Linked DNA regions of Homo sapiens. The protein of the gene in region 4 purifies or fractionates together with the protein of the main gene of each other region. This does not show direct contact. Each region holds a gene or a part of one and is shown on either strand. Other genes may lie near its edges. The genes, in order: TSEN2, DNAJC16, GUSB, CDHR4, CLSTN3, SKIC3 and MRC2.

Evidence for each region.
Region 1: the proteins of CDHR4 (region 4) and TSEN2 purify together in Homo sapiens (affinity purification with mass spectrometry; one large-scale study listed by BioGRID and IntAct). This does not show direct contact.
Region 2: the proteins of CDHR4 (region 4) and DNAJC16 purify together in Homo sapiens (affinity purification with mass spectrometry; one large-scale study listed by BioGRID and IntAct). This does not show direct contact.
Region 3: the proteins of CDHR4 (region 4) and GUSB purify together in Homo sapiens (affinity purification with mass spectrometry; one large-scale study listed by BioGRID and IntAct). This does not show direct contact.
Region 5: the proteins of CDHR4 (region 4) and CLSTN3 purify together in Homo sapiens (affinity purification with mass spectrometry; one large-scale study listed by BioGRID and IntAct). This does not show direct contact.
Region 6: the proteins of CDHR4 (region 4) and SKIC3 purify together in Homo sapiens (affinity purification with mass spectrometry; one large-scale study listed by BioGRID and IntAct). This does not show direct contact.
Region 7: the proteins of CDHR4 (region 4) and MRC2 purify together in Homo sapiens (affinity purification with mass spectrometry; one large-scale study listed by BioGRID and IntAct). This does not show direct contact.

What each region holds. Positions count from the first base shown.
Region 1 is NC_000003.12:12,487,181-12,491,516, forward strand, and holds part of TSEN2 (tRNA-splicing endonuclease subunit Sen2), read left to right. Parts: intron 1-2,603; 5' UTR 2,604-2,620; coding exon 2,621-2,809; intron 2,810-4,336.
Region 2 is NC_000001.11:15,561,002-15,565,337, reverse strand, and holds part of DNAJC16 (dnaJ homolog subfamily C member 16 isoform 1 precursor), read right to left. Parts: intron 3,197-4,336; coding exon 3,013-3,196; intron 1,410-3,012; coding exon 1,227-1,409; intron 1,056-1,226; coding exon 979-1,055; intron 1-978. UniProt on the Homo sapiens protein: Plays an important role in regulating the size of autophagosomes during the formation process.
Region 3 is NC_000007.14:65,964,722-65,969,057, forward strand, and holds part of GUSB (beta-glucuronidase isoform 1 precursor), read right to left. Parts: intron 3,187-4,336; coding exon 3,010-3,186; intron 1-3,009. UniProt on the Homo sapiens protein: Plays an important role in the degradation of dermatan and keratan sulfates.
Region 4 is NC_000003.12:49,789,776-49,793,932, reverse strand, and holds the end of CDHR4 (cadherin-related family member 4 precursor), read left to right. Parts: coding exon 1-130; intron 131-210; coding exon 211-350; intron 351-456; coding exon of another isoform or gene 457-531; exon of another isoform or gene 532-621; coding exon 622-772; intron 773-858; coding exon 859-1,079; intron 1,080-1,322; coding exon 1,323-1,465; intron 1,466-1,973; coding exon 1,974-2,030; intron 2,031-2,131; coding exon 2,132-2,219; intron 2,220-2,461; coding exon of another isoform or gene 2,462-2,464; coding exon 2,465-2,492; intron 2,493-3,045; coding exon 3,046-3,101; 3' UTR 3,102-3,201; downstream 3,202-4,157. UniProt on the Homo sapiens protein: Cadherins are calcium-dependent cell adhesion proteins. They preferentially interact with themselves in a homophilic manner in connecting cells; cadherins may thus contribute to the sorting of heterogeneous cell types.
Region 5 is NC_000012.12:7,150,467-7,154,802, forward strand, and holds part of CLSTN3 (calsyntenin-3 precursor), read left to right. Parts: intron 1-77; coding exon 78-223; intron 224-461; coding exon 462-597; intron 598-4,336. UniProt on the Homo sapiens protein: Postsynaptic adhesion molecule that binds to presynaptic neurexins to mediate both excitatory and inhibitory synapse formation.
Region 6 is NC_000005.10:95,523,548-95,527,883, forward strand, and holds part of SKIC3 (superkiller complex protein 3), read right to left. Parts: intron 2,127-4,336; coding exon 2,040-2,126; intron 1,955-2,039; coding exon 1,851-1,954; intron 1,045-1,850; coding exon 918-1,044; intron 288-917; coding exon 108-287; intron 1-107. UniProt on the Homo sapiens protein: Component of the SKI complex, a multiprotein complex that assists the RNA-degrading exosome during the mRNA decay and quality-control pathways.
Region 7 is NC_000017.11:62,665,439-62,669,774, reverse strand, and holds part of MRC2 (C-type mannose receptor 2 precursor), read right to left. Parts: intron 3,682-4,336; coding exon 3,508-3,681; intron 3,321-3,507; coding exon 3,156-3,320; intron 3,019-3,155; coding exon 2,905-3,018; intron 2,386-2,904; coding exon 2,242-2,385; intron 1-2,241. UniProt on the Homo sapiens protein: May play a role as endocytotic lectin receptor displaying calcium-dependent lectin activity. Internalizes glycosylated ligands from the extracellular space for release in an endosomal compartment via clathrin-mediated endocytosis.

The DNA.
Region 1 (4,336 bases), about 37 Mb from region 4:
CAATAATAATGGCGGCTTTGCATGTCTGGAAGGCCTACTGCGAGCCAAATTCCTGAGGGGTGTGCAGCCACATGAGCAAGAGTAACACAAGAACTTGGATTATGAGGGGTGTTTTGTCGCAGGGACCCTTCCATCCCACACACCTGGGTTGGAGTACAGAGTTCTTTCGATCAAGTGTCACAGCTAAATCTTGCCTTTTTTAGATGTGACAGCAGTCTGAGAGGGAAAAACGCTGAACAAATGAGGCAGACTAAAATACAACTCTTATTTGTTGAGAGAATTTATTAGAACTTCTTGAAGGTGGCCATTAAATCTTTTTTCATTTTTTTAAAATTCCGAATGTAATGTATATAAGTCAGCTGCTGAGCAGAGGTTATAAAAGTGAAAAATCCCATAAAAGTCCAAACCATTCCTGGAAGTCTTTCAAAAAGTGCCTTACTAGAGACCAACATCCTGCCCCCAAAAAGCAGTGTTTATTTTCAGTTTTAGAATAAATTATTGTCTCTCCAATTGAGTACTAAATGTGATAATTTAGTACTTGGGCTGAGGGATAAGTCAGCAAGCAAGGTAAAGCCTAGTCTAAATATGCTCTTAAGAAAATCTCTTAGGTTTCCTGTGAGCATGCAGTAGACGTGGTTTTGTTATAAACACTATACAGCAAGATGCATGCATAAATATAAAATGTACAAAGTAATGCTCAGTATGTAATTCCTTCAAGGAACCTTATTTAGAAATTAATCTAGCATGTTGCTGCTTAGAACAATGGCAATTCTAGGAAGGTTCCAACTTCCCGATTCTTCTTTTTCATGGTTATCTTTGTAATTGATGTATCATTTCCTCTAACTCCTCTTTAGTCTGTGTTTTTCTGTGTCCTCATATAATTCCTCAGCTTCTTCCTTGAGAAGTTGGATACTGATATCATCACACGTTGGATAAGCCTTTTCTTAATGGTCATGACACTCTTAAAGCCACTCACCTTCCCCTCCCTCAGTTTTGGCCACCTTCTTGACTGTTTCAGGCTTGATGGCATCCCTTGCCAATGGGATGCAAGTACTGAGTGCAGGAGCCACCTAAGTAATTAGTCTTATTTTTTCCCTTGTGAGGATTCGGAGTCATGTAGGTTAAACGTGTGTATGATTTGGCCGCACTGTATCTTCAAGCACCAGGTAAGCTCTCAGTTGAAATCAAGTCTAGACCTAGTACTGGGGGAGCAGCAGATTCAAGTTTCCCATCTCATTCCAGGACAGCTGCTCCTCGAGTGGAATGTCTTGCACCATTTACATTGTTTTCCCATGTATATGGTTACGTTTTCCTAGGTTAAGTGCATCTACTGTATCTCTGTGTCTGCATCACACAATATGTTCACATTTACTTCCCTCCTTTAGACATTAGTGGATAACAGCCAGTTCCGTTAGCTCCAACCTGCTTTCTGTGCTTCCAGCTATGTTATATACTTGTTTTGTCTCCTTGGATCCAATGTATGGCCCCAGAGGGACACGTACTGGCTTTGGCTTTCTGTTCTCCCTCATGGTGCTGGGTGCACAGTGGGTAATTCCGTTACTGCTCAATAACCCTTCACCGTCTGATTTTGAGAAAGAGTCATCAGACAAAAGTAGATAGACCCTGCCTGTGCTTTCAGCAGAATCTAGAGAGAGGGCATGGGCTTGGGAGTTCAACAGACCTGGGTCACCCGATGCCACCACACTCGGGGTCGTCTACAAATCTCTCTAACCTGAATCTGTTTCCTATTTGTAAAATGGTGTTGCTACTGCTCACCCTGTAATACTAATTATAGCTGATACATGAATGGTACACGCTATGTGCCAGGTACTGTTCTAAGCACTTTATGGATCTTAACTGTAAGATAGAGTCGTTCTTATCTTGATTTTGCAGGTGAGGAAACTAAATCACAGAGAGAGTCAGTGACTTTTGCCCAAAATCACACTGCTAGGAAGTGGTAAAGTTGATTCTGATGCTGATAGTCTGGCTTTAGAGTCCCTGCTTGAAGCCAGTAGCATTTGGTAGTATATAATCGACCCTTAAATAACTGCTGCTGTCATTATTATTTATTAATGTACTTTAAAAATTGGGAGCTGATTGACCCAATGTTTAGTGTGTATTGTAAGATCCTCTTGGAAAATGAAGTGCCTGCAAGATTTAATTTGTTGAGGACAGGGTCTCAGTTTTGTCTTTGTCTCCCCAGCACCTATGATTATTAGGAATTCCTGGTAGTAAATGTCTGTTGGGTGAGTGAAATGGAAGCACTCCTGGTAGACAGAAATCCTGTTGTGCTTGCTCTCAGGAGACCTAACATTGCAGCTTTGGGCATGTCACTAGGTCTCAGCGTTGTCAGCTGGAGTAGAAAGATTACCACTCATTTCCTGGGGTTTATTGTGGGGATTAATTGCAGTATTCTAGGTCAATATGATTTACATTGCTCACACAAACTGTTCTTACTGCTTTTAGTTTATTGCTTTATAAATACTCTATTTCTTCCCACAGACCACTAAGTTTTCTGAGCCTAGGTACAGATGTACTCACATTTTGGATCAAGGTAGTTATTGATTGTCTGTTTCTTTCTGTTTGTTGTCTACTCTTTAAAGAATACCTCCTCTGAAAAATGGCAGAAGCAGTTTTCCATGCCCCAAAGAGGAAAAGAAGAGTGTATGAGACTTACGAGTCTCCATTGCCAATCCCTTTTGGTCAGGACCATGGTCCTCTGAAAGAATTCAAGATATTCCGTGCTGAAATGATTAACAACAATGTGATTGTGAGGAATGCGGAGGACATTGAGCAGCTCTATGGGAAAGTAAGTGCAGGCAGCCTTGGTAAGATTACTTTCAGACAACCCTGAGCAAGCAGTCCTTTCCTTCTCCCCATCCCAGCCATACCCCCACACCAACCATGAACAATGTGTATTCTTTCCTTGCGGTTTGGTCCAGTTGTAGGAAAAGTACAATTTGAATTAGTGCCCAAAAGCCATATGTTAGGGTAATAGAATGACAGATGGAGCACCCCTGCCCACAAACCTTTATTTCAGTGATGAAGTAGGTTCAATGGATTGACTATTTTTTTTGTCTTTAGTTGTAAAAGCAATGCATGTTTGTTAAAGGAACAAAAAAAGTAATTTACAGAAATGTAATGGGTAAAAAAGTGAAAATTCCCCACTCACTCCCATCCCGTTCCCAGAGGTAGCCACAGCGTGGCATAGTGTCCCTACTCAGGCACGGATCAGATGGGGCTTTGGCATGGAGCTCCTTATCTGCTGCCTCCTGGTTGGGGACCTCTTCTCAGATGAGGACAAGTTCTAGTTTTTACTGTTTTCCAGCATTGATCAAGTTGAATGAAGACTGGTAGTTCTTTAAAAAAAATTTTCCATAATCTGTTCATTGCTGTGGGCATTTTTAAAAAACAGCTTTATTGAGTTATAATTTACAACTATAAAGTCCTCCCATTGTAAGTATACAATTCAGTGATTGTCATAAATTTATAGAGTTGCACAACTCTCACCACAGTCCAGTTTTAGAACATTCCCATCACCACAGAGTTCCCTTGTGCCCATCACACTTAATCCCTGCTCCCACTCCCGGCCCAAGGCAGCCACGGAATGGCGTCTTGTCTCCATAAATGTGCCTTCTCTAGACACTTGATAGAAGAGTGGGTGGCACTGGCCATGGTGAGGCAGGAGTCTCAGTAGGCCAAGGGCAGCTCACCAGGGAGGCCTTCATTTACAGTATATAACATTAAGCAAGAGGCTTTATAAAGTGCTGTATGCATTATTTATTCTTGGTTTTTGTTGTTGCTGGGTGTTTTTTTTGTTTGTTTTTTGTGACAGAGTCTTACCCTGTCACCCAGACTAGGGTGCAGTGGCATGATCTCAGCTCACTGCAACCTCTACCTCCCAGGTTCAAGTGATTCTACCACCTCAGCCTCCCGAGTAGTTGGGACTACAGGCGCATGCCACCATGCCTGGCTAATTTTTGTATTTTTTGGTAGAGACAGGGTTTCACCATGTTGGCCAGGCTGGTCTTGAACCCCTGACCTCAAGTGATCTGCCCACCTCGGCCTCCCAAAGTGCCGGGATTACAGGTGTGAGCCACCATACCTGGCCTCTTTATTCTGATTGTTAATCTAAATGGAGAAAGGGGTGTTTGTTTTATTCTTTCAATTTTCTGTGTGTTTAAATATTTTGTAATGAAAAGGGGAAAAATACATGTTGTTTTTGGAATCAGCAGGAATGAGAGGAATACTTCAATTCTGGAGTACAAAAGAATCCAAGAGGTTTTTTTGGACCTAGTGGGCAGCATGGCTCCTGCCTTCAGGCACACTGTGTTCC
Region 2 (4,336 bases), on a different chromosome or scaffold from region 4:
GTGGGTATCCCTCTTGAGGTTAATTCACTCATTCCTTTTACATCTATACACTGGACTCCACGTGTGTCAGGCCCTGTGCTGGGCACCAGAGGTTCCCTGATGAAGAGACAGTCCCAGGCTCTGCTGCCCAGAATGGCAGCCATGGGTGATCCTTTCCTAGCCAGTGGGAAAGGGTCAGTCAGCCAATATAAAAAAAGGGAAGTGGCCGGGCATGGTGGCACACGCCTGTAATCCCAGCACTTTGGGAGGCTGAGGTGGGTGGATCACCTGAGGTCAGGAGTTCGAGACCAGCCTTACCAACATGGTGAAACACTGTCTCTACTAAACATACAAAAATTAGCTGGGCATGGTGGTGGGTGCCTGTAATCTCAGCTTCTCGGGAGGCTGAGACAGGAGAATCGCTTGAACCTGGGAGGCAGAGGTTGCAGTGAGCTGAGATCGTGCCACTGCATTCCAGTCTGAGTGACAGAGTGAGACTCTGTCTCAAAAAAAAATAAAAAATAAAAAATGTCCGGGAGCAGTGGTTCACACCTGTAAGCCCAGCACTTTGGGAGGCCGAGGCGGGTGGATCACCTGAGGTCAGGAGTTTGAGACCAGCCTGACCAACATGGTGAAACCCTATCTCTACTAAAAATACAAAAATTAGCCAGGCATGGTGACAGGTGCCTGTAATCCCAGCTACTCAGGAGGCTGAGGCAGGAGAATTGCTTGAACCTGGGAGGCGGAGGTTGCAGTGATCCCCAGATTGAGCCTGGGGGACAAGAGCAAGACTTTGTCTCAAAAAAAAAAAAAGTAAAAAATAAAAAAAAGGGAAGTTACTGAAAGAAAGAAAAAGGGGAATAGAAAATGTGTAAACGTTCTTCCACTTGCCCCATCAAGTGTACCTTGAAATTTAATAATGATGAACTCTTTTCAAAAGAAAAACAGTGATATCAGTATTAACAGAGAAAAAGAAATTCAGCCTGGCAATATCCCTACCAGTTGTTGTGAAAAATGCTATCCCAGCAGTCTGAGATGTAGTCAGAAGCAGAGTAGAACCATCGAAGGAGAAAAACCTATGTAGAGAGAAAATGGATGATGGTCAGGACTAAAGCCGGAAGGGAGAGTCCCTCTACCCTGCAACACAGTGCTGCTGCTGGACCTCTGCTCTGAGCAGAAATCCGCCACCAGCACTGTGTACTCACAAGCCCTCCTGGTGTCCCACCCTTCCCAGCCCCGATGCTCACAGGGGCAAGTTCATCGGTCAGGTCAGGAAGCACTGCTTCAGAGGACAGAAGAGCTGGATCTTTACGCAGCTGGTCGAGATAGCCCAAGAGGATAAATTTGTCACTCTCACTCCCAATCCAAGGGTCTTCCAGGGTTTTATACACCACCCTTCCTGCTGTGTTGCGCCTTTCTAAAATAGACACCTGGAAGAAAAGTAGAGAAAAAACATCAGAAGTTTCAAAAGCATGGTTAAGTTACAGTTGTTTGCTTTTTTTTTTTTTTTTGACGGAGTCTTGCTTTGTCGCCCAGGCTGGAGTGCAGTGGCGTGATCTTGGCTCACTGCAAGCTCCGCCTCCCGGGTTCACGCCATTCTCCTGGCTCAGCCTTCCCAAGTGGCTGGGACTAGAGGCACCTGCCACCATGCCTGGCTAATTTTTGGTATTTTTTTTTTTTTTTTTTTTTTTTTTTAGTAGAGATGGGGTTTCACCATGCTAGCCAGGATGGTCTCGATCTCCTGACCTCGTGATCTGCCTGCCTTGGCCTCCCAAAGTGCTGGGATTACAGCTGTGAGCCACCACACTTGGCCCAGTTGTTTGTTTTTTGAGACAGAGTTTCGCCCTTGTCTCCCAGGCTGGAGTGCAATGGTGCGATCTTGGCTCACTGCAACCTCTGCCTCCCAGGTTCAAGCAATTCTCGTGCCTCAGCCTGCTGAGTAGTTGGGACTACAGACAGGTGTGCACCACACCAGCTAATTTTTGTATTTTTAGTAGAGATGAGGTTTCACCATGTTGATTAGGCTGGTCTCAAACTCCTAGCCTCAAGTGATCCACCCGCCTCGGCCTCCCAAAGTGCTGGGATTATAGGTGTGAGCCACCGCGTTCGGCCTAAGAAATAACTTTTATGGTGACTTTCCTAAGCTTTTGTTAAAAGTTAAAGCTCTTTTTTCTCAATAGACTTTGCTCTATAACCTTGACTTAATATTAATGGAAACCTTTGTTTTTTAGAGAGATTTTCCATGATTGCGAAAATGATGAAAAGTCAGAGGAGAATTTCTTGTTTCTGTAGGAAGTGATGACAATGCAGGAGAAAGGCAGGAGAGATCAACCAGGATGAAGTTAAAGAGGCAGAGGGGGGCAGAAATTTCCAGAGCACATTACCAGTGGCCTAAGGATTTGTAAAATCTAGGATCTAGGATGCTGCAAGACCAGACTTGCCTTAGTAAAAAACTGGTGAAAAGCACTGATGACCTTTACCGTTCACTGATAGAAAACATGGTTTCTGTGGGGGCCTGAGGCTGACATCCAGAATGTAAAAAGACCAGGTCAAAAACTGTTTTAAGAGTAGGCTTTAGGCCAGGAGCAGTGGCTCATGCCTGTAATCCCAGCACTTTGGGAGGCGGGAGGATTGCCTGAGCTCGGGAGTTTGAGACCAACCTGGGCAACATGTCGAAACCCTATCTCTACAAAAAAATACAAAAAATTAGCCAGGCGTGGTTGTGTGTGCCTGTGGTCCCAGCTATGTGGGAGGCTGAGGTGGGAGGATCACTTGAGCCTGGGAGGTCGAGGCTGTAATGAGCTGAGATCATGTCACTGCACTCCCAGCCTGGGAGACAGAGTGAGACCCTGTCTCAAAAGAAAAAAAAAAAAATCAAGAAAAAGGAAAAACAAAAGAGTAGACTTTGAAAATAGGCTTCAGAGTTTCAGATTTCCTAGAATCTGTATTCAACACTCTCAAGGAAGAAGGAAACAGAATCAAGTGCCACATGGTTATGAAGAGCCTGGGATGAGGAGAGACTCTGTGGCTTACCGCTGATTTCCCTTGAAACGCCTCACTGTCTGGTAGTAAGGTGTCGGCAAACTCCTGCTGCCGATTGCTGTAGACATGCACAAATCTCACTGTGTCTTGAGTGTTTGCCAGGGCAAAGGACAGGAAAGCCTCAAAGGGTTTGCTCAACTTGGTAGTCTCAGCAGTCAATAAAACCACACAGTACCTGCACAACAAAAAGACAAAACTTTATAACCAATCCCTGATGGCAGGGCCAGCACCTATAATGGCAAGTGAAGGTGAAGAAGACGAGGAGCTCATCTTATGGAAGTGAATACACTGTGCCCAGTGAAAGCTGACATTTCAACTAAGGGAGGATTTCCAAGTCATTAACAAACTGTTTCTCTTCCCAATCTGTGATGTTTTTCCCAAACCAAACTTCTTTACCACATTTACGAATTTTAAAATTTTATATATATGAAATTTTATATATATGAAAACTATATATATATAGTTTTGTTTATATTGCCCAGGCTGGTCTTGAACTCCTGGCCTCAGACAATCCTCCTACCTCAGGCTCCCAAAGTGTTGGGATTACTGGCATGAGCCATCGTGCCTGCCAGGAATTTAAGGGGTTGGTCACTGAATCTCTGATGCAGCAGGGCCTTTCATTTTATTTTTTGAGATGGAGTCTTGCTCTGTCGCCCAGGCTGGAGAGTGTAGTGGTGTGATCTCGGCTCACTGTAACTCCGCCTCCTGAGTTCAAACCATTCTCCTGCCTCAGCCTCCCAAGTAGCTGGGATTATAGGCGTGCACCACCTCACCCAACTAGTTTTTGTATTTTTAGTAGAGACGGGTTTTCACTATGTTGGCCAGGCTGGTCTCAAACTCCTGACCTCAAGTGATCCGCCTGCCTCAGCCCCCCAAAGTGCTGGGATTATAGGCGTGAGCCACTGTTCCTGGCCGGCAGGGCCTTTTAGAAACTATTTGTCCTAGTTCTTCCAGTATAGGGAGGGCTGGTCAAATCTCTCTCAGGCCAGAGGCCACTGAGCCTCATTCTGAACGGCTTCCTTTGCAAGGTTCCAATGGAAAGTTTAGCTATTCATTCTCCCAAAAATATTTACTGAGCACTTAGTATATGTCAGGTAATATAGACAATATTATTGCCCTCATGGAGCTTATATTCCAGTGGGGAAGACAGAAAACAGATATATTATGACAGGTATCAACAAGTGCTATATATTAAAAAAAAAAAAAAAGATGAAAAGGGGACAGAGAGAGGCCAGAGTGGGTAGAAGCCAGGCTCCATCAGACAGGTTGGTCAGGGAAGTGCCAACTGAAAAGGTGACATTGTTATGACAGGAAA
Region 3 (4,336 bases), on a different chromosome or scaffold from region 4:
TTCCACCTCTATCTGCTGGTACAGTCTTAAGGCTAAACTACACTACAGGCAAAAATATGTCTTTCAGTCAGGTGCAGTGGCTCATGTCTGTCATCCCAGCAATTTGGGAGGCTGAGGTGGGAGGACTGCTTGAGCCCAGGTGTTCAAGACCAGCCTGGGCAACATAGCAAGACCCCATCTCTACAAAAAGTACAAAAATTAGCCAAGCCTAGTGGCACACATCTGTGGTCCCAGCTACTTGGGAGGCTGAGGTTGGAGGACTGCTTGAGCCCCAGAGATCAAAGCGACAGTGAGCTGTGTTCACACCACTGCACTCCAGTTTGGGTGACACAGTGAGACCCTGTCTCTAATAAATATATATATATATATAAAAATTAAATTAAATTAAACTCAACCAAACCAGGCTGGGCATGGTACCTCAGGTCTGTAATGCCAGCACTTTTGGAGGTCGAGACAGGAGGATCACTTCAGCCCAGGATTTCAAGACTAGTCTAGGCAACACAGTGAGACCCAGTCTCTACAAAAAGTCAAAATATTAGCCAGGTGTGGTGGCGCACGCCTGCAGTTCAAGCTACTTGGGGCTAAGGAGGGAGGATCGCTTGAGCCCAGGAGGTTGAGCAGTGAGCTGTGATTATGCCACTGCACTCCAGCCTGGGCAACAGAGTGAGGCTGTCTCAAAAAAATTTATTTAATTAAACTAAATCAATTCAGTTATCCTAGTCATATATCAAGACCTCAGTAGCCATGTGTAGCTAGTGTGTACCATTTCAGACAGTGCAAATATAGAACATTTCCATCATTGCAAGTTTGTTTTTTTTTATTTTTTGAAACAAGGTCTCACTCTGTCACCCAGGTGGGAGTACAGTGGTGCAATCATAGCTGAATGCAGCCTTGACCTACTGGGCTCAAACAATCCTCCCACCTCAGCCTCCCAAGTGGCTTGGACTACAAGCACTCATAACCATGCCCAACTAATTTTAAATTTTTTGTAGAGATGGGGTCTATGTTGCACAGACTGGTCTCAAACTCCTGGGCTCAAGAGATCCTCTGACCTTGGCCTCCCAAAGTGCCAGCATTCCAGGTGTGAGCCACCATGCCCAGCACTGCAGAGGTTCTATCAGCACTGACCTAGACCCTCTCAAGAGTTTCTTAAGAATTCAGAGCTAGGGCTTGGCACGGTGGCTCATGCCTGTAATCCCAGCACTTTGGGAGGCCAAGGCGGGCGGATCACTTGAGGTCAGGAGTTCAAGACCAGCCTGACCAACATGGTGAAACCTCATCTCTACTAAAAATACAAAATGAGGTGGGCGTGGTGGCGCATGCCTGTAATCCCAGCTACTCGGGAGGCTGAGGCATGAGAATCGCTTGAACCAGGGAGGTGGACATTGCAGTGAGCCGAGATCGCGCCACTGCACTCCAGCCTAGGCAACGAGAGCGAAACTCTGTGTCAAAAAAAAAAAAAGAATTCAGAGCTGGTTACCTTTTCAAAGAGGATGCGCAAGCAAATATATCCAAGAGCCACTTCCCCTACTTGACTAGTTTGCAGAAGTGGCATTCTGTAAGCACGATAAATTTAAGGGTGCAAACAGAACAGCGCAGTCCACTGTGGGTGGCTGTTCCCTGTGTGTCAACCAGGAGCTGTGACAAACAAGTGTGAGCTGGCTGGGGTGGGAATGAGGGGCTGGATGGGGTTCAGGAATCCACAGGAAAAAAAAAACCTCACAAGACAAACCAACATATCTTTGGTGAGGAGGACAAAAAAATGAGATAGATTAAAAAAATGACGACAGGCTGGGCATGGTGTCTCATGCCTGGATTCCCAGCACTTTGGGAGTCTGAGGCAGGACAATCACGTAAGGCCAGGAGTTCTAGACCAGCCTGATAGACTCCATCTTTACAAAAAAATTTAAAAATAGGCTGCACATGGTGGTTCATGCCTGTCGTCCCAGCTACTCAGGAGGCTGAGGTGGAAGAATTACTTCAGCCCTTTAGTTCAAGGCTGCAGTGAGCTATGATGACACCACTGCACTCCAGCCTGGGCAACACAACAAGACCCTGAAAAAAAGAAAAAGAAAAAAAGGCTAGCACAGTGGATCATGCCTGTAATTCCAGCACTTTTGGAGGCCAAGGCAGGAAGATCAATTGAGTCCAGGAGTTTGAGACCAGCCTGGACAACATAGCAAGACCCTATATCTAAAATATGAAAATTAAGAAAAAGGATATTTTAGTTGGTGATTATGGTGCCAACATGGGCATTCCAGGCAGAAGAAACAGCTCAAGCAAGAGCAGGAGAGCAAGCGAGGGCAGTGGAAACAGATCAGTGGCTGGGATAGAGGGGAGAAGGGGATGAAAACCCAGGAGAGAGCAGAGGACACTGAGTGTCCTGACCAGAGGTTAGGGCTTTGTCCTGTGGGCCTGGGGGAGCCAATGACAGGACTCCCAAAATTTTCAACTGTGGCTGGTGCAGAGGCTCACACCTGTAATCCCAGCACTTTGGGAGCCTGAGGCAGATCACTTGAGGCCAGGAGTTCAAGACCAGTCTGGGCAACATGGCAAGACCCCATCTCTACAAAAGTAAAAAAATTAGCCAGGCGTGTTGGCATGTGCCTATGGTCCCAGCTACTCAGGAGGCTGAGGTGGGAGGATCACTTGAGCCCAGGAGGTTAAGGCTGCAGTGAGCAGTGATCGCACCACCACACTCCAGCCTGGGTGACAGAGAGATCCGGTCTCAAAAACAAATACAAATTTGGATCTGTTAGAAAGACCACTTGGGCACGGGTGATAGGAGGCTATCTGGAAACAAAGCCAGTAAGGAGGCCACCTCTGAGGACCAAGTGAGTGGGGCACAGGCCTGGCTGTTGGCGGTGAGGGAACGTGGACGGGGCCGTGGGAGGAGAGCCCAAAGCTGAAGCGAGGGGAGCAGTGCAGTGGGCGCAGGTCAGGCTGGAGGAGGTGAGTGACATCTCTGCCCTGAGAGAACACACAAGCAGAAAGCTCAACACTGCTTACCTGGTGAAACCCTGCAATCGTTTCTGCTCCATACTCGCTCTGAATAATGGGCTTCTGATACTTCTTATACCAGTTCTCAAACTGGGTGGCCAGCTGCAGCTGAATCAACTCCAGGTGCCCGTAGTCGTGATACCAAGAGTAGTAGCTGTTCAAACAGATCACATCCACATACGGAGCCTAGGACCAGAGCAGCAGAGCCCGTTCAGCACTCAGTAGACAGCATGACTCAGCATTCACACACTGCGGGGGCTCCTCTGGCAGAGAAGGTAAGGGGGATGTAATCCCAGCACTCTGGGAGGCTGAGGCAGGAGGATGGCTTAAGACCAGCCTGGGCAACACAGCAAGACTGCAGCATTACAAAAAATAGTAGTAAGAAAATTAGCAGGGCACGGTGGCTCATGCCTGTAATCCCAGCACATTGGGAGGCCAAGATGGGAGGATCACTTGATCCCAGGAGTTCGAGACCAGCCTGGGCAACATCACAAGCCCCCATTTCTACCAAAAAAAAAAAAAAAAAAAAACCTAGAACGGGAACAGCTGCCTCCTGGGGCTGAGAACGTCCAAGTGTACCAATTTAGATCCTGAAATTACCCTGCCATAGGCAAGAAACATGGTCACAAAGTGGCCCAGAGGAGGTAGGCCTGGGACTCCACACTGACACTCATGACGTGCGCCGCTGGGAAGGGCTGTGAGAGGCACAGCAGCTGCCAACGCACAGCCCTCAGCCAAAGCCCAGGGCCCCCACCACTGGAACTGACTCCTCTCCAGGCAGCACTCCCATCACTGGGCTTCCCCTCACCTTGCCCTGGAGAAGCGCTGCCACCCGAGGGGCCGATGCAGTCATTCTCACAGAAAATCTTTTGTTTTGTTTTGGAGACAGAGTCTCGCTCTGTCGCCCAGGCTAGAATGTTAGTGGTGCGATCTCAGCTCACTGCAACCTCTGCCTCCCACCATCAGGTGCTTCTCATGCCTCAGTCTCCCGAGTAGCTAGGATTACAGGCGTGCGCCACCACGCCCAGCTAATTTTTTGTATTTTTGGTAGAAATGAAGTTTCACCAGTTGGCTGGGCTGGTCTTGAACTCCTGATCTCAAGTAATCTGCCTGCCTCGGCCTCCCAAAGTGCTGGGATGATAGGTGTAAGCCACCATGCCCGGCTGTCACAGAGGATCTTGAGGGAGCTTTCACAAGGCAGCACTGTGGACTGCAGAGGGCCAGAAAAGTCACTCCAAGGAGCAGGGCGGTGACGACCGAGTAGGACCACCCCAAGCTTCAGCATAGCGGTGCTTACAGCTGAGCAGCAGGGGCTTCTGTGTCCAACTGGCTAGTT
Region 4 (4,157 bases):
GTTCAGGAGGATGCGGCGCCCCACACTCTACTGGGCTCCGTGGTGGGCACGGATATGGATTACCCTCATGACAACATTGAGTACTACACCTCTGGTGGTCCTACCACCTTTGCTGTGGACCGTCTCAGCGGTACATCCACCCCAGGGCTGGGATGGAAACAGGGAGCCAGAGTTGGCCCTGCAGGCTGAAGCTGTGGTCTCCCCCTCTAGGGGAAGTTCACCTCCTGGGACCTTTGGACTATGAGCAGCAGAGGCTGTACAGGCTCACTGTCCTTGTGATTGACCATGGCCAAGACCAGAACCCCAACCATCACCTCTCAGGCTCCTGTACCATTACCATCGAGGTTGAGGTAATTGCGTCCTAAGGCTTTGGAAATAAATACTTGGAAAGACAGGAGTTCAGATTGCCCTGTGGTGTTCTGCTTTTCCACTCTGTGCCTTGGTTTCTTCCACGAGTTGGCTGGAGAAGAGTGGGGCCTAATTGAAAGCTCTGGAGCCTGTTGTGTGATGACTTCATCACTTGATGCCTAGGCTACGGCTGTGGTGAGAAGAAGTTGAGGGGCTGGCTCAGAGGTTTAGGGGGTGGGTTCCACCCACTCCTAACCTGGTTCCTTTCTGCAGGATGTGAATGACCATGCCCCCGAGTGTGAGCCCCCATTTCAGGAACTCACCATCTATGCTCCTCTGGGCCGTAGCGTGGAGGTGACCAAGATGTCATGCCAGATCCCTCAGGAGCCACAGCGCCTGATCTACTCCTATAGCATCGTGGGAGGTAGGGGACATGGGCACCACCAGGTTGTGAGTGAGGGGCAGGCCAAGGCCAGCAATGGTCTCTTCCTCCTGTCATTCTGCTTTCAGGGAATAGCCAGAACCGATTCATCCTGCAAGGGGCCATCCTGGTGCACAGTGACCTTGTGTTGGGGCCGTTCTGGCCAGAGCAGCCCCGTACCTATGAGCTACTGATCTGTGTGGCCGATGCAGGCCCCTCCACCCCCCACCTCAGCACCACAGCCACCATTATTGTGCATCTAGTTCCCCGGAGGGCCAGCACAGTGGCCACCAGCACCCACAGAACCACAGTGAGGAGGCTCCTTGGGCCCTCAGCAGGGTGGGAAGGGTGGACCTTGGAGAGTGAGGAGACCCAGTTTTTCAGGTGGAACTATGGGGAAGGCAGTTCAGAGGGAAGCGCAGAGTGCGGAGAGCCCAGCAGTGTTGAAGAGCAAATCATGGGTGTGGGGTGGCTTAGCCCGGGGAAGGGTTGGAAGGCTGGATGGTCAGGGCATTTTGGCAAGGCAGTGGTGAGGCTGTGGCCTCCTTTTCAGGTGCCCTCAACGATGACACCCATGCTCGTGACAGACACAGAGGCTTTCTGGCAGCCACAGCCCTGGTTTGTGGTGGTGTTGACAGCAACTGGTGCTCTTCTCCTCTTGGCCCTAGGCTGGCTTCTTGGCAGGCTCCTCCAGGGGTAGGGATCCTATCCTTGTGCTCCCTACTTGCCCCCAACCCACCTATGGACCCCAGTTGTGATGGGTGGTTTCACCCAAGATTAGATGACAATGCCCAAGTAGGTGGGTGACGAACTGATATTGAGGAGGGCTACTCTCCCTCCAGAGGTCTTTAGATTAGGGTCAGAGAGACACTGGGAGGAAGCAACTTCCATCACCGGCAGAATCCAGTCTTGGAATGGGAGGAGGGTAGATAAGCTCAGGGCTTGAAACTGTGAGTCTGTCATACATTGGGCATTTACCCCTATTCCTGACTTCTGCCCTCCACTGGAAAGCTTTCCTGCTCCTGTAGACTCTGAAGTTCCTTGTGGACATAGGACTGAGCCCAGGGAAAGGGGATGTAACAATGTGGGCACTGCATACAGACATTGGTTGTTCCCAATATAAAGGAATGGGTGAATGGTGCTGATTCCTGGAGCCAGTAGGCCTGCTGCCCTCACTGCTTCGTTACTCCTCCTGGCATTTTAGGTTGGCCCAGCTGCTGCAAGCACCCAGCAAACCAGCCCAGGCTTTGCTGCTAAACAGGTCAGTCTCCTTTGCATACTTCTATGCCTGGGATCCCATCTCTTAAACTCAGGTTAGGGCCCAGAGCCTTGCCCTGTACTCTTGCTCGTACTTTGCCCCAGCATCCAGGGAACTGAGGGATCCATCGAGGGTTTCCTGGAGGCACCGAAGATGGAGATGTCCCAGGCACCCAGCAGTGTCATGAGTCTGGTATGTCAGCTCACCATCTCAAGTAGTGGACACCAAGGGTGCTTCAGAGTACTCCCCTGCCCCCTCCAAGCCTTTTTTCCCATGCCCCTTTTCCGATGAATGGGTATCCTTGTGGAAATGCCCACACTAGCACCATCAGAATGGAGGAGGCAGGTGGGCTTCTGGCCCCCTAGGGGCAGGCCTTCATCTGCTCCCCTGTGGGCAGGGTTCAATTCATTGCATCTTTTTTTTTTTTCCCTCAGCAGCATTTTGATGGCAGAGCACAGGACTCCCGTGAGTCCCCCTCTTCCTAAGCTATTCTCTGCCTGGGCCCTCACCCCATCTGAGTATCTCCTCCTCTCTTTACCCCATCTCAATATCTCCTCCTACTCCCAGGAACCCACCATCTATCTGCTTTTTTCCTGAATGGGGTCTGCTCTCATCCCCGCTCACTCTTCATCCATCCTTTGTCAAACGTCTAGGGGGTCAGGAGATGACTCATATCTGGTCTGGTCTCTGCCCACAACGGGAGGAGGGATGATGGTGAGGGGAGAGGCCTCCAGATAGTCCAATGTCACCAGTGATTTATGGGAGAGTAATCTGGTATTGCCTTAGGGAAGCTGGTGTCCAGTGTTGGAGAATCAAGGAGGCTTCCTGTGCATTTGAGTCAGAGTTGAGAGAATTTGCTGAGAAGGGAGGGAGGGGACAGGTTAGATTCCAGCGAAGGTGGGATGTCACACTGAGGGTCCTGGAGGAATAATCTCCTACCCTTAAGTAAGGGGGAGGGAGGCAGTTCTTCTGGGGCCAGCAGCACCCCCTGCTCTCCTCTCTCTCCTACCGGTTTTAGGTACCGGAAGAGACTACCTGTTTAACACACACACAGGAGCCCGGCGCTGGCTCTGAGGCCAAGTAGCTGTCTTACTATGTGTGGAATTTCTTTTTCACACCATCATGGGCTGTATTTTCAAGTTGATTCATAATAAACAAAATTACAAAAAGAAAAGTTCTAGCCTTGTAGCCAACGTGTGGGAGAAGCTCTGAAATCTGTGCCTCCTTGTTCTCACTTGGACAACTCCCTACCTTGTGAGCAGACTCTAGGGAGCAGTAAGGTTTTCCTTTTCTCTTTCAGGGTTTTTTTTTTTTAGACAGGGTCTCACTATGGTGCCCAGGTTGGAATGCAGAGGCTATTCATAGGTGTTATCATAGCACACTATAGCGTCTAACTCCTGGCTTCAAGAGAGCCTCTCATCTCAGCCTCCTGGGTAGCTGGGACGATGGGCGCACCACTGCACCTGGCTTTATTTTTCTTTTAAGAAGGTATTGTGTGATGCTCAGACTGACAGTGTGACTGATGCTCTATAGAAGTAATAGGCTATCATCCTTGTCAGTGACTGAGGGGCCTCCAATCAGCATGTCTCCTCAGGGCCACCTGCTTCCTTTTCCTATCCAGAAGAGAGAGAACAATGCTGCGTGTGTGTGTGTGTGTGTGTGTGTGTGTGTGTGTGTGCGCGCGCGCGCGCGCATGTGTGTGAAGGAGAGAGGGGGCGGGGAGAGGGAGAGAGGGGGAGAGAGAGAGAGAGAGAGAGAGAGAGAGAGAGAGAGAGAGAGAGAGAGAGAGAGAGAAAGATAGGGTCTGGCTGTCTGGCTTTGTTGCCCAGGCTGGAGTGCAACGGTGTGATTGTGGCTCACTGTAGCCTTGACCTCCCAGGCTCAATCGATCCTCCTACTCAGAATCCCAAGTAGGTGGGACTACAGGCATGGACCACCATGCCTGGCTAATTTTTAATTTTTTTGTAGAGATGGGATCTCTCTATGTTGACCAGGCTGGTCTTGAATTCCTGGGTCCAAGCCATCCTCCCCCTTCAGCCTCCCAAAGTGCTGGGATTATAGGTGTGAGCCACCGTGCCTAGCTCACTGTTGCTTTTGTTGTTGTTGTTGTTGAGATGTTTCTCTTTTTAA
Region 5 (4,336 bases), on a different chromosome or scaffold from region 4:
TGGGAGTCCAGGAGAGAGGGTCCTGCCCAGGTCCTGCCTCCACTGGCCCCTGCCCTGAGGTGCTTCCTCATCTCCAGGGGTGGAGAGCATCACTGTGTATGAAGAGATCCTGAGGCAGGCTCGTTATCGGCTGCGACACGGAGCTGCCCTCTACACCAGGAAGTTCCGGCTTTCCTGCTCGGAAATGAATGGCCGTTACTCCAGCAATGAATTCATCGTGGAGGTACCCAGAGAGTCTCCTTCCTTCCACAGTTACCCACCCCCAGAAAGGAGCTGAGGTGGCATGGACTCAAAATGTTAGTTGGTGGGCATGGACATGGCAGCGTGGAGGGCTGCTGGACCTTGCAGTGGGTGGAGGAGAAGGAGATGGGGGCAGTAGTTAGGAGATGGGGCTGGGGTCTAGAGAAGTGGGGAGGACCTGGGAGAAGCGTGTGTGCCCATGGAGCCCTCCCTCTGCCCAGGTCAATGTCCTGCACAGCATGAACCGGGTTGCCCACCCCAGCCACGTGCTCAGCTCCCAGCAGTTCCTGCACCGTGGTCACCAGCCCCCGCCTGAGATGGCTGGACACAGCCTAGCCAGCTCCCACAGAAACTCCAGTACGTAAGCCTGGTGGGGCTGGGCAGGGAGGGGCAGGTGGCAGGTGAGTGTGTTGGGACAGGTATCCTCCCCCTCCACCTCTGGGAGAGGACAAGGTAGGTGGAGCAATGGGTTCTGTTCCCTGTGGTACCTGCCTTAGTTGACAGCTATGGACCAATCCCTCTCTCCCTTTGGATCATTCACTTTCCCTTGTGAAGAACATGAGCCTTGTGTCATTGTAGGGATGCTTATGCCTGCAGTCATAAAGTCAGTGTGGGTTTAGGCGTGTTTGTTATACCTGATGATGCCTCCTTCCCCAGCCCCAAGCAATATCAAATTAGCCCTGGACCTAGGATCCTCTGTGGTGAAACTATCAAGTATTTACTAAGCACCTACTATGTACTAGCACTGTCCTAAGATGATCTAAATGATTTATAGGATAGATCAGTCCCTATCCCCAAGGAGAGAATTGGTACTATTACATGTAAAATTATGTGCTACGTATGCAGTCACAAGAATATTTCTAAAAAATATATGCAAATATGCAAAGCGTTACATTCAGATGGAGTGCTGCCCTTCAAAGCTGCCCTTCAAAGCAACCTGGCCGTGGTCCCAAAGGTTCCCGGTCATGGTCCTTTACGAATGGTGCAATTTTATTTTCAACTTTTGAGTTGCGTAATTGTAGAAAAACCAGAAAATATCAAATATTTCTTTTAAAGAAGAAAAATCAGGCCAGGCACAGTGGCTCATGCCTGTAATCCCAACACACTAGGCTGAGTCAGGAGGCTCACTTGAGTCCAGGAGTTTGAGACCAGCCTGGGCAACACAGTGAGACTCTGTCTTTACAAAAAATAAAAAAAATTAGCTGGGCATGGTGGCAGGTGCCTGTAGTCCCAGCTACTTGGGAGGCTGAGGTAGGAGGATCTCTTGGGCCTGTGAGGCCAAGGCTGCAGTGAGCCATGATCACACCACTGCACTCCAGTCTGGGAGACAGAGCAAGGCTCTGTCTCAAAGGAAAAAAAAAAAAAAAAAAGAAAGAAGAAGACGAGGAAAACTCAGCCATAATTCCGTCAGAGAGGAAACCACTGATAATATGAGTATTCTGTTCCAGTCTTTTTTCTATGCTTAATTTTTCCTTTTTAGAAAGTTAGGATTAGCCTATTTTGTAACCTGATATTTACACTTCATATTATAAAACAAGTATTTTCCCACATTATTAAAAATTGCAAATGATGCTGATGTTGTTGAAAGTGATTTTTGGAACCCCTTCTTAGAATTGCTTTCAGAGCCAATTTATGAGGTGCATTTATTTTTGTTATTTTTTGGACATAACTTGCTTTTGACCCTGTTCAGTGTTACTCAACTTCATCACCCAGTTTTGCCAAAGTTGAATCTGGATATAATTTTAAGTTTTTAAACATTAAACCCACTCTCAAAGGCCATAGATCGGTCACCTTTGAAAAGAGTCAAAAGGTTGTGTCACAGGCTTTTGAGAATTGAAGGCAATTCTCAAAGGAGTCCACTAGTGCTTTCTGGGAAGAAATTTGTGGTCTCTGAACACTATGTGAAAGTACAGAACTTATTTCAATATATGTGATGGGTAATAATAATTATAACAAACACAGGGTGCTCTCATCATGTGCCAGGCACTGTGCTCGGGGGATTACGCTTATTAACTCATTTAGCCATCATAAACAACCAATGAAATGGGTACCAGAATTATCCCCTTTACAGGCAAGGACACAGAGGCACAGAGAGTTCAAGTGCCTTACCCAAGTTCACGCAGCTAGAAAGTAAGTGGAGCCAGGATTTAAATCCAGGAGGCATGATTCCAGTCTGTGCACTAACCATGGCCCTCACCCTTCTCCCCAGATGTTTGATGCTTTAAAAAAGATTAGTCTTATTACTTTAGAGTTGCATATAATTAGGGGGAGCCCCTGAGGGGCTTCCCAGGGTTTTCTGACTGAGGCCAGCTCCTCTGATGCCCCCAGGGATTCAGTCTGGCTTCCTCTCCTTGTGCAACGGCCACCACCTACACTGTCTCTTATTTTATTTTATTTTATTTTTCTGGGACTGGCTCCCTTCTTCCTTGCTGTCCCTGAAAACAACCGCAGAGGCTTTTGGGAGGGAGAGACAGGGTCTTGTTCTGTCGCCTAGGCTGGAGAGCAGTGGTAATCCTAGCTCACTGGAGCCTCGAACTCCTGAGCTCAAGCAATCCTCCTGCCTTAGCCCCCTGAGGAGCAGATGCATGCCACTATGCCTGGCTATTTTTAAGACTTTTTATAGAGACAAGGTCTCACTTTGTTGCTCAGGCTGGTCTTGAACTCCTAGGCTCAAGCGGTCATCCTGGCTCAGCTTCCCGGAGTGCTGGGATTACAGGTGTGAGCCGCCGCACTTGGACTTGCAGACGCCTTTTTCAGTGTTCTACTGTGATTCACTATAGCAAGTAGGTGGAAGTGAGGATTAGCGGGGAATATAAGGCATAACCAAGCTGCAAAGATTAGAGAAGTTTCACATAGTATTTAGTCAATAGAGACATGTTAGCAAGCTAAACCTATTTATTTCAAATAAACTCTTGAGGCCAGCTATAAATTTTTTTCCTTCTTGTGATTCCATAGCACTTTCTCCAGTTCTTTCATTGGGGATCATTCCACTCAATCTTTTCTGGTTGGATACTAGGTCCTGCTACTCTGATTAGGCTCAAGGTAGATAGGGGTGCTGCCTGGCCTGGTGAGATTCTCGATCCTTACTTTCTTTGGTATAAGGCCCCAGGTGAGAGACTTCTTGTTCTAGGAGCCCAGCACCTTCTCCCCTGAGTGTCCAGCTGCCCTGCATGGGCTGGTCTGGCGGGCAGCGTTTCTCACCCCTCAGCCCCTGGAGGAGTGTCTGTTCACGGCACCCTTTCACCTCCCCTCGGTGAAGCCCAGTCTCCCCATCCTTTGTTCTGAGCTCATGTCCAGGCTGATCAAGCTTCCCTCAGATTTCAGTTGAGAGCAGCAGTTTTCCTTTGCTTCTTCTCTTATTTTGACCTGAATAGGACACAGAGTTCGTAGCTTCCCTGAGGGCACTGGTGATTGGCATGCCTGAGCTGACAGGCCATTCACGGCATAAAACCCTTTCCATATGCCTTTTCTGACTCCGCAAGGTGCTCCCTCCCTTTCACCTACAAATCTCGAGTGGTGTTGCAGAACTGTGGTTTCACAATATCAAACCATTCTAAACATGCAGAAGCAGTGAGAGGTACGATCTCCTCCAGTGGCACGGAGGCCCATTGCTCTAAATCTCCTAAGTGCACTAGAGAAAGAGAGATGAATGTGAACTGGAACCAGGGTAAACTGGAACAGTCAGGGGAGATTTTGTGGCACATGTAGAGTTTGCATTTGGACCTGAACTGTAAAAGGGATTTTTGGATGGGTGTGAGAGAGAATGGGAATTTGAGAACCGGGGGTAGATAGGTGGTTAAGAGTGTTTATGGTTAGAGAGAATAAGGTTGGTTGAGAAGAGCAAGCCGGATGATGAGGGTATTATGTATCTACTCATATCAAATTTTGATGACTGCCAGAATCACCTGGGGAGCTTTAAAAACTCTCGGCACCTAAATTATACCCTAGAATGTCTAGGGGGTGGGAGCCACGTGTCAGTGGTTTTTAAAAATCCCATGTAATCTTTAAAAGTTTGGGAATAATTTTCCTCTTTTGTTTCCTACAAGTATCTGAAGCTTTGCAGAAAGAGTTACAAAGCAATAGGACAAAAAGAAAA
Region 6 (4,336 bases), on a different chromosome or scaffold from region 4:
ATAGAAAAAAAACTAATGATAACTTTCAAGTATACATATATAAAAATATTTTCATTTATATACTCAGGATAAAAAAAACAAAAAGCAAAAGTGATTATTAGACATACCATATCTTCAAGCTCCACACTTAGGTCAACTGCTGCAGCTCCAGATTCAGCATCAGTGTCATCTAATTCAAAGGCTTTCCTATAACATCCACGAGCTCTGTTTTTATCTCCCACTACGTCTCTATAATAATGACCTAAATAGCAGAAAACTTTGCCCATATATGTATCCAGTCTTGCAGCCTTTGAAATAAATATTGATAATAACAGAACATTAAAAGTTCATTTAATGAGTATCTTTACAAATACAGAAGATAAATACACAGATTAAAGAAAAAAGAAATAATTTCATTAAACATACAAAAATATGCCAAAAAATCCTTTGATGTAAGATTTAAAACAGACAGGAAAGCTGTCCCTCACTGCTTATAGAAAGTAAAAGGAAATATAAAAATATTTTGTTTTTTGGTAAAGGAAATGTGAAATTAGAGCTGCTACTGAATTAATCTGCTCTTACAAGTCAAGATAAGAATGTAGGACTTATAGATGTTAAACATCTAAAAAAACAGGAATTTAAACATCTAACTTGTATGCTCATAAAACTACAGTGAAAATTACCTTAAAAGTATTGTTTACAAGAGATAATTATGTCTCGTTTTCTACAACACATGCTTTTCAAAAAGTAACTTTCACATTTTATGTTTTAATTTTTTCCTTGAAAACCCATATAACACCATCACAAAACCTGACATATGAAAGATAAAGCACAAAAAACAGTTCAGTAAAGAGTAATTGTAACTAATGTATATGATTATTATTTATGATTTTATAATGCCATTTCAACTAGGAATTGAATTGTAGCACTTGCTTTACCTTCAGAAAGTGGGTAAGAGCCTTTGTTTTATCTTTTCTTGTCTCTTCACCCATGAACCAGTATGTTAATCCAAGTTGGTAATGATATTCTGCAACTTCGGTATCTTTCTCAAGAGCTCTCTGAAAACTAAGCCACCAAAGGGTAATAAAAAGAAATAGTAAAACAAATACACACACACCCACACGCAATATAGGAGACTCCTAGTTGGAACAATCAAAGTTTGAGTGATTCAGAGGTGCCAAATTAGAAACCAATCATCACTTTAGGATTTATATTATCATAAGGAAAAAAGTGATTTGTTTTTGAAGAAGAGGATCTTAAAAAAGCACAGTGGCCTTTTAGCACTACCATGTGCTAAGTGTTCAGACTATACTGAACATTACATCTGCTTAGTGAACATTATGATCAGCTGATTAGATTTTTTTTTTTATTTTTTGAGTCCGAGTCTTGCTCTGTCATCCAGGCTGGAGTACAGTGGAATGGTCCTGGCTCACTGCAACCTCCACCCCCCAGGTTCAAGCAATTCTCGTGCCTCAGCCTCCTGAGAAGCAGGGACTACAGGCATGTGCCACCACGCCCAGCTACTTTTTGTATTTTTAGTAGAGATGGGGTTTCATCGTGTTGCCCAGGCTGGTCTTGAATTCCTGCGCTCAAGAGATCACCTGCCTTGGCCTCCCAAAGTACTGAGATTACAGGTGTGAGCCACCACGCCCGGCCAAGATCAGCTAATTAGATTTGAAACCCATCATATAATTTTTTATAGCTACTGTACTACATGCTAAATACATTTCTTTAAAATACTAAAACTTAAAGCCTACAAAGATCAAATTCATGAAAAATCAAATCTTCATCAAGCCTACTCATTTTGAATTTTTCAGAAATATAAAGAACTAAGATGTAAATGGTTCTATGAGCAATTTATATATCCTTACCATTTTTCTGCTTGTAGATAGTCCTTTTTGGTGAAATGAATCAAAGCCTCAAGGGCATGAACTTCAGCTAGGTCAGGGTAAGAAGAGAGAAGGTCTTCCATAATCTATAAAGTAGACACCTGTCAATTCTATAGCCAAATAAAAATGCTTTTAACTCAAAAAATGCTCAGTTTGAATAAAAAAGCCAACCTTTGCAGCTTCATCAAATGAACCTTTGTTCCGATAGGCCAAGCTTTTGAGAACCAAAAGTCCTGGGATATTATCTGCATCAGAAATCTAGAAAATAATTGTAAAGAACTGCTATAAATCTCCTTCAACACAACCACAGCAATGTTTGCTTTAATTAACGAACGAACACAGAAAAGCATGGTCCTAATAGAATAAAGAAATAGAGGTCCTGATTTCTATCACTAATAACACATCTTCACTCTTCATAACCTTTTTATTAAGGAAAATCTCATATACATAAAAAAATTACAGAAACTAGTATAATAAACCCACATGTACCCATCATCCAGCTACAAAACCACAAACTCACAAGCAATCATTTTTTTCATCTATACCTCCACTAATTTTACCACACTTCTGCTCAGATGATTTTGACACAAATCCCAGATATTGTAACTTTTTACCTGTAATACTTCAGTATCTATATCTAAAAGTTCATTTCTAAGTTGCATAACCACATTACCATTATCATACCTAAACAAAAACAACATCCTTAACACTATCAAATTTCTCAGTTGTCTCATATTTTAACAATTTTAAAAATCAAAATCTAAATAAGACACATACATTTGAACTTAATGATAATGCCTTGTCTCTTTTAATCAATAAGGTCCCCCTCCTTCTCTTTTTTTTTTCTTCCTTACAATTTAACTGTTGAAAAATATGGCCTATTTGTCACAGTTTCTCAGAGTCTGGATTTTGCTAAACGTATTCTCAAGGTGTTTAACATGTTCCTTGGTTCCCTGTATTTTCTGTATATTAGTAGTTGGGTTCAGAGGTTTGAAGATTCCCAAGGATACTTCAGGTCTTCAGGTGTATTTGCACTTGGTTGTGTCTGACTGTCTTTTTTTTTTTGTTTTTTGGAGAGACAAGAGTCTCGCTTCGATGCCCAGGCTAGAGTGCAATGGTCTGATCTTGACTCACTGCAACCTCTGCTTTCTGGCTTCAAGCGATTCTCCTGCCTCAGCCTCCCAAGTAGCTGGGATTACAGGTGCATACCACCAAGCCAGACTAATTTTTCTATTTTTAGTAGAGACAGAGTTTCACCATATTGGCTGGTCTCAAACTCCTGACCTCAAGTGATCCACCTGCCTCGGCCTCCCAAAGTGTTAGAGGCATGAGCCACTGTGCCCAGCCTGATTGCCTTTGTGTGATGTTAGTAGCCATTAACCCTTGATGCCTAGATCTATTAATTCACTGGGGATTGCAAAATGGTGATTTTCTGTCATTTTCTCTTATTAGACAGAATACTTCAACAAAGGCAAATTTCTCCTACCTTCGTTATTTCATTATCCTGAGGAATGATTCAGATAAAGGCAGGATAAATGCCTTTATTCTTCATAGTTGGGTTCTTAGCATCCCCCCAAACATTTGTTTTCTTGAGGACATTTGCTGAGTTTTCTGAATCATCATGAACACATGGATTTAAAATATTTGATCTGTTTCAACATACCACATTAGTAACGCCCTTTTTAGCCAGTAAGAATCTCTTTATGCTAGCTCTTGAGCCCTTTTGTAGTCTGAGCCCTTTTATAGTTTCTTGCTTTCTAGCATGACAAGGTGTTCTTGGTTCATCTTGTACATTTTCTATCTCAGACCTGGACTCTGCTAGTTCTCCAAAATAGCAGTCATTTGTTTTTTTGTGAAAACATTATTTGAAAAACCTTTATAAAGCATTCACACAAAACACATTATTGGTGGGATGGCAAAAAGAAAACAAGAAAATATTAATTGTTGAAAGATGCTGACAACGGTTCTGATTTTAAAGAAATATTATGAAATACAAAGCCCTTTGAAATACATAAAACTGATTTAAAAACTCAATTTTAATTTAGACCAGTAATAGTCTTTACCTGACAAAAATCTTTAGGGCATAATGCTATAATTCATAATTTACCAGTTATAGTTTTTTTCACTATGGACTTTCAAATTGCTTTAACTCAAAACACTAAGAAATCGGTTTCATTATGAAATATGAATCTTTCTTTGAATGAAACAAATAAACATTCTCTACCATGAAGCTAACAGTGTCCTTAATTATTCTTGTCAAATCTGCAGAACACTTCCTGAAGGAAAAAATTTGGAATCTCAAATTAATAATAATCAAGTAGTAATAACCTAAGAGGGCAAAAGGAAGAAACGAGAATGAAGTCTAGAACTAACGAAATAGTCTTATATGATGAGTACTATAAGTCCTTAATCAAAAAGCAAACAAATAACTTTAGAAGTTCCCAAATGTATGAATGACTTATAAAAGT
Region 7 (4,336 bases), on a different chromosome or scaffold from region 4:
AGACCAGCCTGGGCAACATGGTGAAACCCCATCTCTAAAAATACAAAAAAATTAGCCGGGCGTGGTGGCACACTCATGCCTATAATCCCAGCTACTCGGGAGGCTGGAGCATGAGAATCGCTTGAACCTGGAGATGAGAATCGCTTGAACCTGGGAGGCGGAGGTTGCAGTGAGTGGAGATTGTGCCACTGCACTCCAGCCTGGGCGACAGAGCGAGACTCTGTTTCAAAAAATAAATAAATAAAAATAAAAATAAAAAGGCGGGGTGCGGTGGCTCACGCCTGTAATCCCAGCACTTTGGGAGGCCGAGGTGGGCAGATCACCTGAGGTCAGGAGTTCAAGACCAGCCTGGCCAACATGGTGAAACCCCGTCTCTACTAAAAATACAAAAGTTAGCCGGGAAGTAGTGATGCCCGCCTGTAATCCCAGCTACTCAGGAGGCTGAGGCACGAGAATCTCTTGAGCCTAGGAGGCAGAGGTTGTGGTGAGCCAAGATCGCACCACTACACTCCAGCCTGGGTGACAGAGTGAGACCCTGTCTCAAACAAACAAACAAAAAAACCAGTCCTGAGTCGATCATTGGCAAGACTTCCATGGTCAGGAGCAGAAGTTTTGCTCTGTAAACTCTTTACTGTCTGTAGTTAGTGTTGTGTGTGTGTGTGTGTGTGTGTGTGTGTGTGTGTGTGTGTTGCCATATTTTCTTTGTAAAAGTCTCCTCACCACCCCACAGCTTCGCAGGAAACTGCACAGCCCCTCCAACCTACACCACAGTAAACATCCACAGCCAACTACAGAAAAACTCCTTCGTGCCAGGCCAGATCTCCAGCCTTCCTCACAACAACCTTGCAAGGGGGGTGGCTTCATTCTCCATTTGCAATGAGGACTCTGCACCCCAGAGACTAAGCTGCTTGCCCAGGGCCACACAGCAGTAAGGGGCAGAATCCCTAAAGCAGACCCTGTCCATTGCCCCAACTCCTCCACGAGGCCCCTAAAGCTGTCTCTATGATCACAAACGAGAACCAGACACTCCCTGGCTTAAACATCTTCAAAGGCTCCCCACAGCCTACCTGGCCCCACCCAAACTTGGCCCAGCAGCCAAGACCCTGCAGAGACTGGCTGCAACCTGCCTCTTCTTCACCATGCCCTTTAAGCCAGGGCTTCCCAAACTGTGTCTGCACATGAATCATCTGAGGATCTTGTTAAATGCAGGTTCTGATTCAATTACTCTGGGGCGGGCCTGACTGTGCATTTCTAACAAGCCCTCCGGGGATGCTGTGCTGCTGGTTGGATGACCATACTTGAAGTGGTTAGAATCTATACTCCACCCAAACTGCAACAGGCACCATCCATTTTTTTCTTTTTCTTTCTTTTTTCTTTTTTTTTTTAAATTTATTTATTTATTTATTTATTTATTTTTTGAGGCAGGGTCTCGTCTCGCTCTGTTGCCCAGGTTGGAGTGCAGTGGTGCAAGCGAGGCTCACTGCAGCCTCAACCTTGCAGGCTCAAGCAATCCTCCCACCTCGACCTCCCTAGTAGACAGGCGTGCATCACCACACTCAGCTAATTTTTTAAAAATATTTTGCAGAGACAGGGTCTCGCTATGTTGCCCAGGCTGGTCTTGAACTACTGAGCTCAAGCAATCCTCCTGCCTTGGCCTCCCAAAGTGCTGGGATTATAGGTGTGAGCCACGGTGCCCGGCCATCACTCACCACCCCTTAAAGCTGCAGTGTAGTTCTAGGCCTCCACACCTTTGCATATGCTCTTCCCTCTGCCAGGAATGCCCTTCCCCCACACCTCTTTATATCTTTTAAACTTAGACTCAATTTGAAAGGCCCAAATCAAATGTTATTTCCATAAACCCCTCCTTAACTCTCAGAAGCTGAATCAGTTTCTTCTCTATGCTCCTCTAACACTGATCCATATTTCTATAATCACTCATGACCTGGGATAGTCTAACTGCATTGAGATGTCTGTCACCTCCAGCAGACTGTGGTCTCTACGAGGTAACAGTGGGTATTGCCAGCATTTAACACAGATCTCAGCACATGTTCCCCAAATGAATTAATGACATATTCCAATTTGCTCAGACTTTAACTGAACAATGAAATAAGAGTCAGAGGATCCAGAGTCCCCTTGTGCTGTGGTGGTAACCGGAGGAGAGGCTGGGCCTGCCACGGCTCTGTGGCTGTGTCCCTGGCCCTGGGAGCCCCTCCCCACCCTGCGGCACAGTCCCTGGCTCACCTGGAGGGGTGGGCTCGGCCGTGGCGTTGGGCTTCTTCTTGCACACATAGGGCAGCGCGATGCTGCAGTCACGGTTCTGCCAGCCGCCCGAGGACTCAGTGCGGATCACTCCACAGTTCTCCTCACTGGGGTTGTCCGGCTGGTCTGTGGGGAGGGCAGGGCGCCAGCACCCCCGGAGAGAGAAGCTCACACCGTGGCTCCCGGGGCCCTGCTCAGAACCTCCTACCTCCCTCTGCTCCCTCGGAAGCCTGAGCCAGTTCGGGAAGCCTGGTGCTCAGCTCCAGCTCCGCCCCAGACCACGGGGTCCTCCGCGCTTTCTAACCTGGGTGCACGTCGCCTTGAACCTTCTACCCAGTAACCAGTACCAGCCCCGCCCCGGCCTCCCCGTCCAGGCTGCTGGGTGCGCTGGTGCCCGCTGCCCACAGGGGTGGCTGAAGAGGTGAGTGGAGGCTGGCACCCAGTCCATATGCACCAAGACCTTCGGCCTGGGGCAGCGCCGCCCTACATGGGCTAGGGGGGCGCAGTCTGGGGAGGGGGGTGGAGGTCGGTGCTTCCCCTACCCACACTGCCCCTCTGCAGGAGGACATGAGGAGAGGAGTCCATGGGAGGCCAAGAGCCCGCGGGGCCCCTATGCTGCCCTGCGCCCCCAACCTTGTGCCTCACCACTCTCCCAGTTGAGGTACTTGAGGGGCGAGTTGTCCGACCACTGCCAGCCTCCGCTCGTGTCCAAGTCATTCAAGCCGATCCACAGGGTGGAGCTGTACCCAGTGAGGAGGCCTGACAGCAAGGAGGGACACTGAACAGGGGATCCCCAGCCCCAGCCTCCCCCGCTCCCCATCGCCCTCTCCCCAACCCACAAGCGGAAAGGGCCCGGGCCCTCCAGAGGCACGAGCAGGCATCAGGCCCCGGCTCACCGTTGATGTAGGTCTGCTCGTGGATCTCCGTGATGCTCAGCAGATCCGCACCCTGCTGCTCGCAGCTGGCCCAGGCCTCCCTCCACGACAGCGTGGACTGGAAGTTAAACTGGTAGCAGCTGTCAGTCAGCTGGTCCTTGTCCCAGAAGGTCTCGCAGTCGTTACCTGCCACCACGACAGCCCTCTCCTTCAGGCCCCCTCCAGGGTCCCTCGGGAGTGCAGACCCTCCCCCACCAAAAGGCTACACTAGGTAGGGGAGGGGGCAGTATCTCACCCTGGGCCCCGGGGCCCCTCAGCACCAGCCTCCCTCCAGGAACACTGCCCCCGCCCCCACGGCTCCAACAGCTCTCACTCTTGATGGGGCAGAAGCCCCAGCGCTCGTCTTTGCCGTAGTCCTGGGTGGTGGCACACCACAGGTGACCATCCTCGCGGCCCGTGCTGGTGCAGCCGTGGAACCACTGGTTGTCATATTTGAAGGGGATGGTGCACGGCTTTCCGTGGGAGTTTCCCTGGATGGTGTAGACCTCTGCAGGGGGTGGACAGGGGCCAGGCCCTTGGCATCTGGACACCAGAGGCTGCCAAGCCCCTCGACCCTCAGGAGAAATCCCCTAAAACCCAGAGTGCTGGGTGTTCACAGGGATCAGCAGGTGGGAGAGGCAATGGCACCCCATAGTGGCTTTAAGGCTTCTTCTGCTGTTGAGTCAGCCCAGGAACCAGAGAGAGGTCTTGCTGCACACCTCATAGGGCTGGGAAGGGGCTCCCTAGTACCCCTAATCCCATCCAAACTCCAGCTGGGCAAGAGGGCCTCCAAGTCACCCACAGAGGGCTGAGCCCGGTGGAATCTCTGCTCAGCTACCCAGCCCATGGGCTCTGTGTCCCCACAAAGTTCTATCTCGGAACTCAGGGGGTCTCCCAGGAAAGGCCCCCCCAGGACGGGGCTGTCCACCACAAGAGGCCAGCCCCTCACATGGTGACTCTGGTCCCCATTCACCACATGCAAGACAGGCATTAAGACAACATGGGGGGCTACAATGGGGTTTCACCTGGAGAGTGGGCCTGGGGGAAGGGAATTTTCATTTAATTTTATGTTATATACTTGTATACTATTTGAAGACTTTACAAGCATGTATTTTGCAATTTTTACAAAAGTAAATTAAATGCTTTGAAGTTAATTTTTCTTT